Linked DNA regions of Homo sapiens. The gene in region 1 interacts genetically with each later gene. Each region holds a gene or a part of one and is shown in the gene's direction. Other genes may lie near its edges. The genes, in order: DDX18, TCOF1 and RIT1.

The links.
Region 2: changes in DDX18 (region 1) and TCOF1 together harm fitness more than expected from each alone (negative genetic interaction), as found in Homo sapiens cells (one large-scale study listed by BioGRID).
Region 3: changes in DDX18 (region 1) and RIT1 together harm fitness more than expected from each alone (negative genetic interaction), as found in Homo sapiens cells (one large-scale study listed by BioGRID).

Annotation. Positions count from the first base shown.
Region 1 is NC_000002.12:117,828,152-117,831,875, forward strand, and holds part of DDX18 (ATP-dependent RNA helicase DDX18), read left to right. Parts: intron 1-797; coding exon 798-854; intron 855-1,137; coding exon 1,138-1,315; intron 1,316-2,430; coding exon 2,431-2,573; 3' UTR 2,574-3,724. UniProt on the Homo sapiens protein: ATP-dependent RNA helicase that plays a role in the regulation of R-loop homeostasis in both endogenous R-loop-prone regions and at sites of DNA damage.
Region 2 is NC_000005.10:150,374,490-150,378,213, forward strand, and holds part of TCOF1 (treacle protein), read left to right. Parts: intron 1-127; coding exon 128-322; intron 323-464; coding exon 465-674; intron 675-849; coding exon 850-1,065; intron 1,066-1,231; coding exon 1,232-1,420; intron 1,421-1,592; coding exon 1,593-1,841; intron 1,842-1,933; coding exon 1,934-2,131; intron 2,132-3,724.
Region 3 is NC_000001.11:155,904,850-155,908,349, reverse strand, and holds part of RIT1 (GTP-binding protein Rit1), read left to right. Parts: intron 1-3,500.

The DNA of each region.
Region 1 (3,724 bases):
GCCCACTTTTTGATTGGGTTGTTTGATTTTTTCTTGTAAATTTGTTTAAGTTCTTAGTAGATTCTGGATATTAGTCCTAGCCAAAATTGACAAATGGGATCTAATTAAAGAGCTTCTGCACAGCAAAAGAAACTACCATCAGAGTGAACAGGCAACCTACAGAATGGGAGAAAATTTTTGCAATCTACCTATCTGACAAAGGGCTAATATCCAGAATCTACAGGTTGACATTTCATTACTTATCTTTCTCCCCCTCAAGACGGCAAGCTCTCTGAGGGCAGAGTCCATGAGTTAGGTACCTATTTTCTCTCTAGCACCTGGCACAGGCCTGTTGCTTTTCTAGTTATCTAATGAGTGATAACTGATGGCAGATCCATCCTGTAGGAGTTTGTGGTCATCATGGCCTCCAGTGTCACAAGCCTCAATACAGGACTGTGGGGGTATTAGGGCCCCTCTTCTGACATGGAGAAAAGGGGCTGATGGCCCTTCTGACTAGAAGCTTCAAGCTGATTCATGGTTGCAAATAGTCAGGATTATAGAGATTCTTACAGAAAAGTGCTTTACTGACTGTGTCCCTATCCAGTTCCTTGCCTTTCAGAAAGAAAGAAGTGCAGATTGCCTAACTCAGCAGAGCAAAGATGTAACTTTCCCATCAACATTGGGAGACTAGAAAAAGCAGATTTTCCTTTCTGTCCTGAGGGAATTTCATAGGCCGGTTCATCCTTCCCTGTCTTCAGTACCCAGTATCGGAATGCTGATCATCCTGGTTTACTAATCTTAATACTTTTGATTTCTAGGTTCCATTAAGTGAATTTGACTTTTCCTGGTCTAAAATTTCTGACATTCAGTCTCAGGTATGTGCTTTTTAAACGTTTGTGAGTAAACAGGAACCTTGTCCCAGCACTCTGTTTGTAGTGATTCACTGGGCAATCACTGTCCTTTGAAGTCTACCCTGTCCTAAAGTGAGGATCAGGCTGTGTAGTGTATAAGGTTTCTTGCTATTCTAGTTATCACCACTCTGTGCCCTCTTTAAATGTTTTCCATGGAGTGGCTTTGCTCTAGGATATTTAAAATCTGGTGTTTTGGAGGTTTTTGTTTGTTTTTGTTTATTAAAACCAGTGTTTCTTTCTATTTCAGCTTGAGAAATTGATTGAAAAGAATTACTTTCTTCATAAGTCAGCCCAGGAAGCATATAAGTCATACATACGAGCCTATGATTCCCATTCTCTGAAACAGATCTTTAATGTTAATAACCTAAATTTGCCTCAGGTTGCTCTGTCATTTGGTTTCAAGGTGCCTCCCTTCGTTGATCTGAGTATCCTTTTCTTTAATGAAGTTATCCTGTGACTAAGGAACAAAAGCTTGACAGAGGGGCATTTGGGGCTTTGCAGTGGATTGGTATGTGTTCTGGCTCAGACTGGAGGCTCCAGTGTTCACCCTGGTCGATGTCTGCTTTTCTGTGCTAGCACAGGACATAGAGGTTGGATGGGGTAAGCAGGGCTTAATCATTAGGATGGGGTTACAGGGACAAGGCAGCTTATGCCTTGAGCCTTCAAAAGACAAAGAAATTTGACTGTCAAGGAGAGACAGAGACAGTTGTGTGTTCCAGGCAGAAACACAGGTTAAAAAAATCAAAACTTCAGTGTTTGCTGAGGCTGCACTGTGCAGGGTACTTAGGTGAATGGGGTGTTTTGAAGCTAAAGAGAGGATGGGACCTTTCAAGGAGTTTTAATCATCTTAGAACCCCTGAAGGATTTTATGCAAGAAAGTGGCAAGTTCAGCAAAAGAAAATAAAACTTAGGTGTTGCTTAAGATAAAAGGCAGGAGTACTTCCAGTTGCTTCAGTTGTGATTTATAATTTGTGCCTTTCAGAAGAAGAAACTGAGCAGCTGAAATGAGGCCTGTGCTTCAGTGCCATAGGGGTAACTTCTGAGGGAACTAGAGGACCAAATTTTGGGTCACCATCCCCATTGTCAGCATTGAGTAAATGTCAGCTGAAATGAATGTATGTCGAGTCCTGTGGAAGGAAGAGCAGCTCCTTCACTTAGGCATTCCTAAATCAATTCCGAAGAGAAATGATAGTCATTTGTTTTGACACAGGAGGTGTTTTTTTAATGTGCTCCTACCAACTTCCTGATTAAACTCATAAATCCTTATTCACTGTCATGAATTTCATCGTGTGGAAGAAATAATTAATATGACTATTACACACCGAAGTTTAAAATCATACCTGCTAATTTAAGTCCACAGTCACGTGGCCACTCCTAATTTTCTGGAAATTTATTGCATAGGCTTATGTTCCCACATTTTCATTGTTGAGAATGGGGTTGTGGAGGAACAGTAGTGTTCATGCCGGTTTTTTTCTCTGTGTAGATGTTAGATTGGAGTTCATTATCTTTTTTGCTTGATTTCCTTAATGTTTGCCTCCAGACGTCAACAGTAATGAAGGCAAGCAGAAAAAGCGAGGAGGTGGTGGTGGATTTGGCTACCAGAAAACCAAGAAAGTTGAGAAATCCAAAATCTTTAAACACATTAGCAAGAAATCATCTGACAGCAGGCAGTTCTCTCACTGAACACATGCCTTCCTTTCATCTTGAATAACTTTGTCCTAAAATGAATTTTTTTTCCCCTTGATTTAACAGGATTTTTGTAGACTTTAGAATTTGGACTTACCTAACAAGAGTATAAATTGACTTGGGTTGCAAGCACTGAGCACTGTTACTTCTATCACGTCTCTCTTTTATTTCTGGGATATAAAACAGGCTTTAAGTTTCTTGGTTGCCCAAGGGCAGAGCAAGGAATATCTGGTGTTTCTTGTGATGATAATATTTTAATTTTAAATATCCCTCCCTCATACAAGTGTATGTTACCATTTTAATATAATTCTTTTTGTACCTTTCCTTCTTGTTTTGCGAAGATTTTTGTGGCATGGATTGCTGTGCTCACTGCTGTAAAAGGTGACCTAGTGTACTGGGCAGCTGGTGGCGGTGCAGAAAAGAGTCTCAGGTTATTTTTTGTTTTTAGTTATTTCTTGGACCTTGACAGTATCTAATGACTCCTCCTGAAAATGCTGCAGTATAAAAGAGCAAAGAGCTTTGGGAAATACCTAAGAAGCACCTTAAGATTAGGGTGGCATTGCTTTTATAGATTCTTGATTTTAAAGCAACAGGCCTTTCTCAGGTGTTGCATTTTTTGGAGCAAAAACTATGGGTTGTAATTTGAATAAAGTGTCACTAAGCAGTTATAACGTTTGATGGCTGGGGGGTAGGAAGAGGATGGAATTGAGATGTTTGAGCCTCATTTACATCAATAGAGGTGTAATGTACTGCATTTCTTCATTTGGTAACATAACAAAGACTTTCATACAAAGAACGATGATGCTCCTCATTAAGATTTGTTTAATTCAAGGTGGTTTGGATTTGGTAAGCCTTTGCACTCTGTAGAGTACTTAGAAGACAAGGGCAACTTACTTGGAGTTAGAGCCAAGCTGTCAGACGGTGCCCAGCACACATTAATGTTAGCTTCTTTCTGAGAAAAAAATACCTCTTCCAGGCCCTGAAACAAAAAATACATTTGCTGTGAAGATTGAAAATGAACAAAGTTAGAAAAAAAAACAGCAAAATCAGTGATTTAGTCAGATGAGTTTTTCGTTGTAGGAGCACTTGATTTCTAGTGTGTTTTGTACAGTATATAACTACAAGATAGTACATTTTGTAGCAGTTCA
Region 2 (3,724 bases), on another chromosome or scaffold:
ACCCCAGCCCCTTACTCCCCTCTCACTGTGTGGCATCATTTGCCCTATCTGGTCTTCTGTACGTGGTGTCCTGTGTCTCCTCACACGTCCATCCTCTGGGCTGTCTCCCCTTGTCTTGTTTCTCCAGGCGAAGGCCTCAGGAAAAACCTCTCAGGTCGGAGCTGCCTCAGCCCCTGCCAAGGAGTCCCCCAGGAAAGGAGCTGCCCCAGCGCCCCCTGGGAAGACAGGGCCTGCAGTTGCCAAGGCCCAGGCGGGGAAGCGGGAGGAGGACTCGCAGAGCAGCAGCGAGGAATCGGACAGTGAGGAGGAGGCGCCTGCTCAGGTGAGGCAGAGGGGAGGGGTGGAGAGTAGCCCCATGCCTAAACCCCAGCACCTGCATGGGTGTGGCCACCTTTGCCACATCCAGCTCCTGTCTCCACACGTCCACCCTCTGGGCTCTCCCCTCATCCTGTTTCTCACTCCAGGCGAAGCCTTCAGGGAAGGCCCCCCAGGTCAGAGCCGCCTCGGCCCCTGCCAAGGAGTCCCCCAGGAAAGGGGCTGCCCCAGCACCTCCTAGGAAAACAGGGCCTGCAGCCGCCCAGGTCCAGGTGGGGAAGCAGGAGGAGGACTCAAGAAGCAGCAGCGAGGAGTCAGACAGTGACAGAGAGGCACTGGCAGCCATGAATGCAGCTCAGGTGAGGCTGGAAGCCGCCCTGCATGGCCTGTGCCCTGCCTCAAAAGACCTCCTGTGGTTTTGACTTTTCCTCTCTGAACCTAGAGCCCTGTGCGGCTGGCTTCGTTTGCTCTCCTCCCCTCACTCACATTCTCCTTCTGGACTCCCTCCCTAATCTTGTCCTTTGTGTCTCCCAGGTGAAGCCCTTGGGGAAAAGCCCCCAGGTGAAACCTGCCTCTACCATGGGCATGGGGCCCTTGGGGAAAGGCGCCGGCCCAGTGCCACCCGGGAAGGTGGGGCCTGCAACCCCCTCAGCCCAGGTGGGGAAGTGGGAGGAGGACTCAGAGAGCAGTAGTGAGGAGTCATCAGACAGCAGTGATGGAGAGGTGCCCACAGCTGTGGCCCCGGCTCAGGTGAGGCCCCTTCCTGTAAGGCTCTTTCTTTTTCCCCCCCACTCAGAGTGGAGCTGCCTGTGGCCTCCCAACCTCACACTGGGACTCTGTCTACAATCTTAGTTTCTTAATGTCTGCACACACCTACCCTGGGCTCCCTCTCCCGATCCTGTGTATCTCACTCCAGGAAAAGTCCTTGGGGAACATCCTCCAGGCCAAACCCACCTCCAGTCCTGCCAAGGGGCCCCCTCAGAAGGCAGGGCCTGTAGCCGTCCAGGTCAAGGCTGAAAAGCCCATGGACAACTCGGAGAGCAGCGAGGAGTCATCGGACAGTGCGGACAGTGAGGAGGCACCAGCAGCCATGACTGCAGCTCAGGTGAGGCCTGGGGAAGGAGGCTGCTACATGGCCTGATCTGCCACACCACAGTCAGCACCCCCGGGGAGCTGTGCTCCCTCAGGCAGAGCATGGGTTTTGGCTGGTGGGGCAGAACAGATGGGGGACTCTGAGTTCAGGAACCTTCTCCAGCCTTTCTTTGGTGTCCCCTCAGGCAAAACCAGCTCTGAAAATTCCTCAGACCAAGGCCTGCCCAAAGAAAACCAATACCACTGCATCTGCCAAGGTCGCCCCTGTGCGAGTGGGCACCCAAGCCCCCCGGAAAGCAGGAACTGCGACTTCTCCAGCAGGCTCATCCCCAGCTGTGGCTGGGGGCACCCAGAGACCAGCAGAGGATTCTTCAAGCAGTGAGGAATCAGATAGTGAGGAAGAGAAGACAGGTCTTGCAGTAACCGTGGGACAGGTGAGGCCTGTGTTTTCTGGGCGGGCCTCAGGGCCGCCCCTACGTGGTCCTTTGGACTCCTGGAGACACCTCTCTTCCCCTTGTCATCCCAGGCAAAGTCTGTGGGGAAAGGCCTCCAGGTGAAAGCAGCCTCAGTGCCTGTCAAGGGGTCCTTGGGGCAAGGGACTGCTCCAGTACTCCCTGGGAAGACGGGGCCTACAGTCACCCAGGTGAAAGCTGAAAAGCAGGAAGACTCTGAGAGCAGTGAGGAGGAATCAGACAGTGAGGAAGCAGCTGCATCTCCAGCACAGGTGAGGCCTAGAAGGAGCAGGCCCATCCCACCCACACCTGTTCCTGAGCCAGGGCTGAGGATGGGCTTGACTGGGGGCTAGTGTTGCCTGCAGGTGTGCAGAAGCCTCAGAGGTAGCCTCAACACAGCTTCCTTCCCTATCTTTCACTCCATGTCTCCTCTGCCCATCAGAGCTCCAGGGTCTCTGTCTTGTTTGCCTTTTGAGGTCCTCCTGCTGATTGATTCCCTGTGGTTTTCACAAGCTCTGGAGTTCCCACCCTGCCAGGTGCTGCCCTTGTCTGGGGTTGCTGAGGCGCTGTTCCTCAGGGAAGTCCTGTCTCTGTGGAGCATGGACATGCTCCTGCAGTGTGGAGCGATGGGGTTGAGATAGAGGGTGTGAGCCTGGGCTGCGCAGCATGACAGGTGAGAGCATCTAGGCCTTTTACAGGAGGTGGCAGCATCTGAGCCATGGGCTGAAAGAGTTGGCCAGGTGAAATGGGCAGGGAGAGTGTTCCAGGCAGAGGAAGCAGTCTGTGCGAGGCCAGGGAATGAGAGAGTGCCTGGCTTGGGTGCCTTGCCACAGGCGGCACATTGTGGTGGGATGGCTGGCAGTTGTTTAGAGCCAGACCGCCTGGGTTCAAGTTTCAGCTCCACAGCCTGGCAAGTGCTGTAAGCCCTCAGAGCCCTTACTCTCCTATAAACAGGAAATCAGCCCTCACAGGTTTGGGTGAGAATTTAGGTGAGATCTCACCTGCTACACCCAGCAAGGGAGCTGCACACAGCAAGTTGTCTCTGTCACCCTGACGATGGGCCAGGCTAATGTGGAACAGATCAGGAGTGAGGTCTCCAAGCCTGGAAGAGCTGAGAGAAGATGGCTCACTCCCTGCACTCACCCACCCACTGTTTATTATTTTTAATTGTCGCTCTGTTTTTTTCTGTAACCACTCAGAAATTAGTCATTTCTTTTTTCTCTGTACCAGAGCACACATTTCTACTGATTTTTTTTTGTCCTCCTCTCGTTGACTTGTGGGACCTCAGGGCTCTAGAATTCCTCCATTGAGGTTTTTAAGCTCTGCAGGGGCCCCTTCCAGAGCCGCCTCTACTCTTTCCCAAGCTGCAGGCACATTCCAGACCCAATGCCTTACAGAGTTTCATTATGCAGCTCACTTAAATATTTGTCTTCCCTTCTGAGCCTCCCACCTGTACCATGAGGTGGGTGTTTTATTTTTATTTTTTGAACCATGGGCTATTTTGAAGTAAGCCGTTTAATTTCCAAATATCTGGGATTACCCAGGTTTCTTTTTGTTGATTTCTAATTTAGTCACATTGTGGTTGGAGAACATATTTTGTATGATTTAAATCCTTTTTTGTGTATTGAGACTTGTTAGGTCAAGTCAGTCTTGTGTCTTGTTTCTTGTGGAAAACATGGCTCCCCTCTGGAGGATTTACGTGCTCTACTGATGAGCACCTCGGCCTGAGTCATACTTGGTCCACACTGTAGGGAATCTTCTTGAAGTCCTGATTCTTCACCTCATTTGACCTCATGTGTTTGAGGAATGCTGGGGGATGGGGTTGTTTTCTGACACTGACCAGATGCCATCCCTGAGTGAGGCAG
Region 3 (3,500 bases), on another chromosome or scaffold:
CTGAGTAGCTGGGACTACAGGGGCCCATCACCACGCCCGGCTAATTTTTTGTACCTTTAGTAGAGACAGGGTTTCACTGTGTTAGCCAGGATGGTCTCGATCTCCTGACCTCGTGATCTGTCTGCCTTGGCCTCCCAAAGTGCTGGGATTACAGGCGTGAGCCACCGTGCCCGGCCGCGTCTTTCCCTTTCTTTAAAGTAAAACTCAAATACTCGTCTCCTGTAAGAGTTATCTGTATTTTTTTTTTTGTTTTTTTTTTTTAGATGGAGTCTCACTGTCGCCCAGGCTAGAGTGCAGTGGCATGATCTCGGCTCACTGCAGGCTCCGCCCCCCCGGGGTTCATGCCATTCTCCTGCCTCAGGCTCCAGCGTAGCTGGGACTACAGGCACCCGCCACCTCGCCTGGCTAATTTTTTGTATTTTTAGTAGAGACGGGGTTTCACCGTGTTAGCCAGGATGGTCTCGATCTCCTGACCTTGTGATCCGTCCGCCTCGGCCTCCCAAAGTGCTGGGATTACAGGCGTGAGCCACCGCATCCGGCCAAGTTATCTGTTTTAATCAATTTTCCTCCAGTTAACTACTCTCCTGGCAATATTATCTGATTCAACAGCAAATACTTATGTCTTCTGAGTTTCTATTATGTGCCAAGCACTGCTTACCCTCAGGGTACAGTGGTGATCAAAAAGATGAGGTTTCTGTTCTTGAGTTTCTAATTTAGTGCATTTGATTTCAAGCTCTGGCTGTAAACTCAGAAAAACTTTACATTGTAACTGGTAGAGATATAAAAGCATACAAGGCCGGGTGCGGAGGCTTACGCCTGTAATCCTGAGCCTGCAATCCTGTAATCGAAGCACTTTAGGAGGCCAAGGCACCTGAGGTCAGGAGTTCAAGACCAGCCTGGCCAACATGGTAAAACCCCATCTCTACTGAAAATACAAAAATTAGCTGGGCGTGTTACTGCTGCATGCCTGTAATCCCAGCTACTCAGGAAGCTGAGGTGGGAGAATTCCTTGAACCCAGAAGGCAGAGGTTGCAGTGAGCCGAGATTGCACCACTGCACTCCGCCCTGAGCGACAGAGTGAGACTTTGCCTCAAAAAAAAAAAAAAAAAGCATATGAATGTGTGCATATGTATATATAAATTATATACACAAGCGCATGTGTATGTGTAGCTAAAATATTATGAAACTTTACCTCACTACATCTGGTGCACTCTGATATTTTCTTTTCTTTTCTTTTTTTTTGAGACAGGGTCTCACTCTGTTGCCCATGCTGGAGTGCAGTGTTGTGATCTTGGCTCACTGCAGCCTGGACCTCCTGGGTTCAGGTGATCCTCCCGCCTCACCCTACCAAATACCTGGGACTGCAGGCGTAGGCCACTAAGCCCAGCTAATATTTTTGGATTTTTAGTAGAGATGAGGTCTCGCTCTATTGCCCAGGCTGGTCTCAAACTCCTGAGCGCAAGTGATCCTCCCACCTGGACCTCCCAAAGCACTGAGATTACAGGCGTGAGAGCCACTGTACCTCACCCACTCTGGTATTTTCTTTCTTTTTTTTTCTTTTTTTCTTTTTTTTTTTTTTTTTTTTTTGAGACGGAGAATTTCACTCCTGTTGCCCAGGCTAGAGTCCAGTGGCACAATCTTGGCTCACTGCAACCTCCACCTCCCAGTTCAAGCGATTCTCCTGCCTCAGCCTCCCAAGTAGCTGGGATTACAGGCGCCTGTGACCACATCCAGATAATTTTTGTATTTTTAGTAGAGATGGGGTTTCACCACATTAGCCAGGCTGGTCTTGAACTCCTGACCTCAGGTGATCCACCCGCCTCAGCCTCCCAAAGTGCTGGGATTACAGGCATGAACCACTGTGCCTGGCCTGGTATTTTCTATTTTTATTTAGGTTTCTGCTTGTTTATTTTAATGCTGGTCCCGGCCCATTAAGTAGATTTCACAACTCACTAATCCTAATGAATAATTGAGAAGCATTGATTTAATGAGCTCTTCATCTTTGAGGAAGAGACAGAAGCAGGAATTCAAGAAAAAATGTTAAAAGGAAATACATTGAGATGTAAGCAGCAGTTGTTAAGTGAATGAAATATTGCGTGGCTTTTTTTTTCTTTTTAGTTTTCTATATTTTCCAAGGTTACTATAGTAATATGCATAAAGAAATTTGCTTTCAGAAAAGAGAAATTACGAAACTGTGGATTATTTAGAAAATAGTCAGTTAGACCGGGTGCAGTGGCTCACGCCTGTAATCCCAACACTTTGGGAGGCTGAGGCAGGTGGATCATTTGAGGTCAGGCGTTCAAGACCAGCCTGGCCAACATGGTGAAACCCTGTCTATACTAAAAATACAAAAATTAGCCGGGCAATAGTGGCATGTGCCTGTAATCCCAGCTACTCAGGAGGCTGAGGCAGGAGAATCCCTTGAGCCTGGGAGGCAGAAGTTGTGGTGAGCCGAGATCATGCCACTGCACTCCAGTCTGGGTGATAGAGTGAGAGCCTGTCTCAAAAAAAAAAAAAATAGTGAATTATATATTTTTTTCCTTTTTTGTAGTATTGAGGAGGAAGTATAACACATGGTTAATAATGCTTTTCAGTTCAGCAATCTTGGATTTTAATCCTCATTCTGTCACTAATTAACTAATTTAGAGAAGACATTAATATTTTCAAGTTGAATTTTCTTTAGCTGTAAAATGGAGGTAATAATGCCTACTTCATTGGATTATTGTGATTATTGAAGAATTAATATATATAAGTTACTTAGTATAATGTCTGGTAGATAATAACAATTTAATAAATGGTAAAGTTACTTTTCAGGCCTAATTTTTTTTTTCCCCTAAGAGATGGGGTCTCGGCTGAGTGCAGTGGCCCACACCTGTAATACCAGCACTTTGGGAGGCCAAGGCAGGAGGATTGTTTCAACCCAGGAGTTCGAGACTAGCCTGGACAACATTGCAAAATCCTATGTCTACCAAAAATACAAAAAAATTAGCCAGACATGGTGGTAGCACGCCTGTAGTTCCAGCTACTTGGGAGGCCAAGGTGGGAGAATCACTGGAGCCTGGGAAGTCAAGGCTACAGTGAACCGAAATTGCACCACTGCACTCCAGCCTGGGTGACAGTGAGACCCTGTCTCAAGAAAAAAAAAAAAAGATGAGCTGTTGCTGTGTTGCCCAGGCTGGTCTTGAACTCCTGGGCTCAAACAATACTCCTGTCTCAGTCTCCCAAGTAGCTGGGATTATAGGCAGTCACCACTGTGCCCAGATAGCCTAATTTTTTTAAGAAAGACATCTTCTCAGAATCCTTTTTTAGCTTAGAATTGTAGGTGAAATCTTCAGCTGTGAATAAACTACATCATCACCTATGTGGAAAAAAAAACTTCAGTTGAAGACTCAGTTTATGTATCTCAGTGGATTTAGCATGCTTCCTGAGAAAATGTGGGCATTTAATGAATTTGGATACAATGTACTACTCTGTAAGATGAGTTTTAAATAGGCATTTCT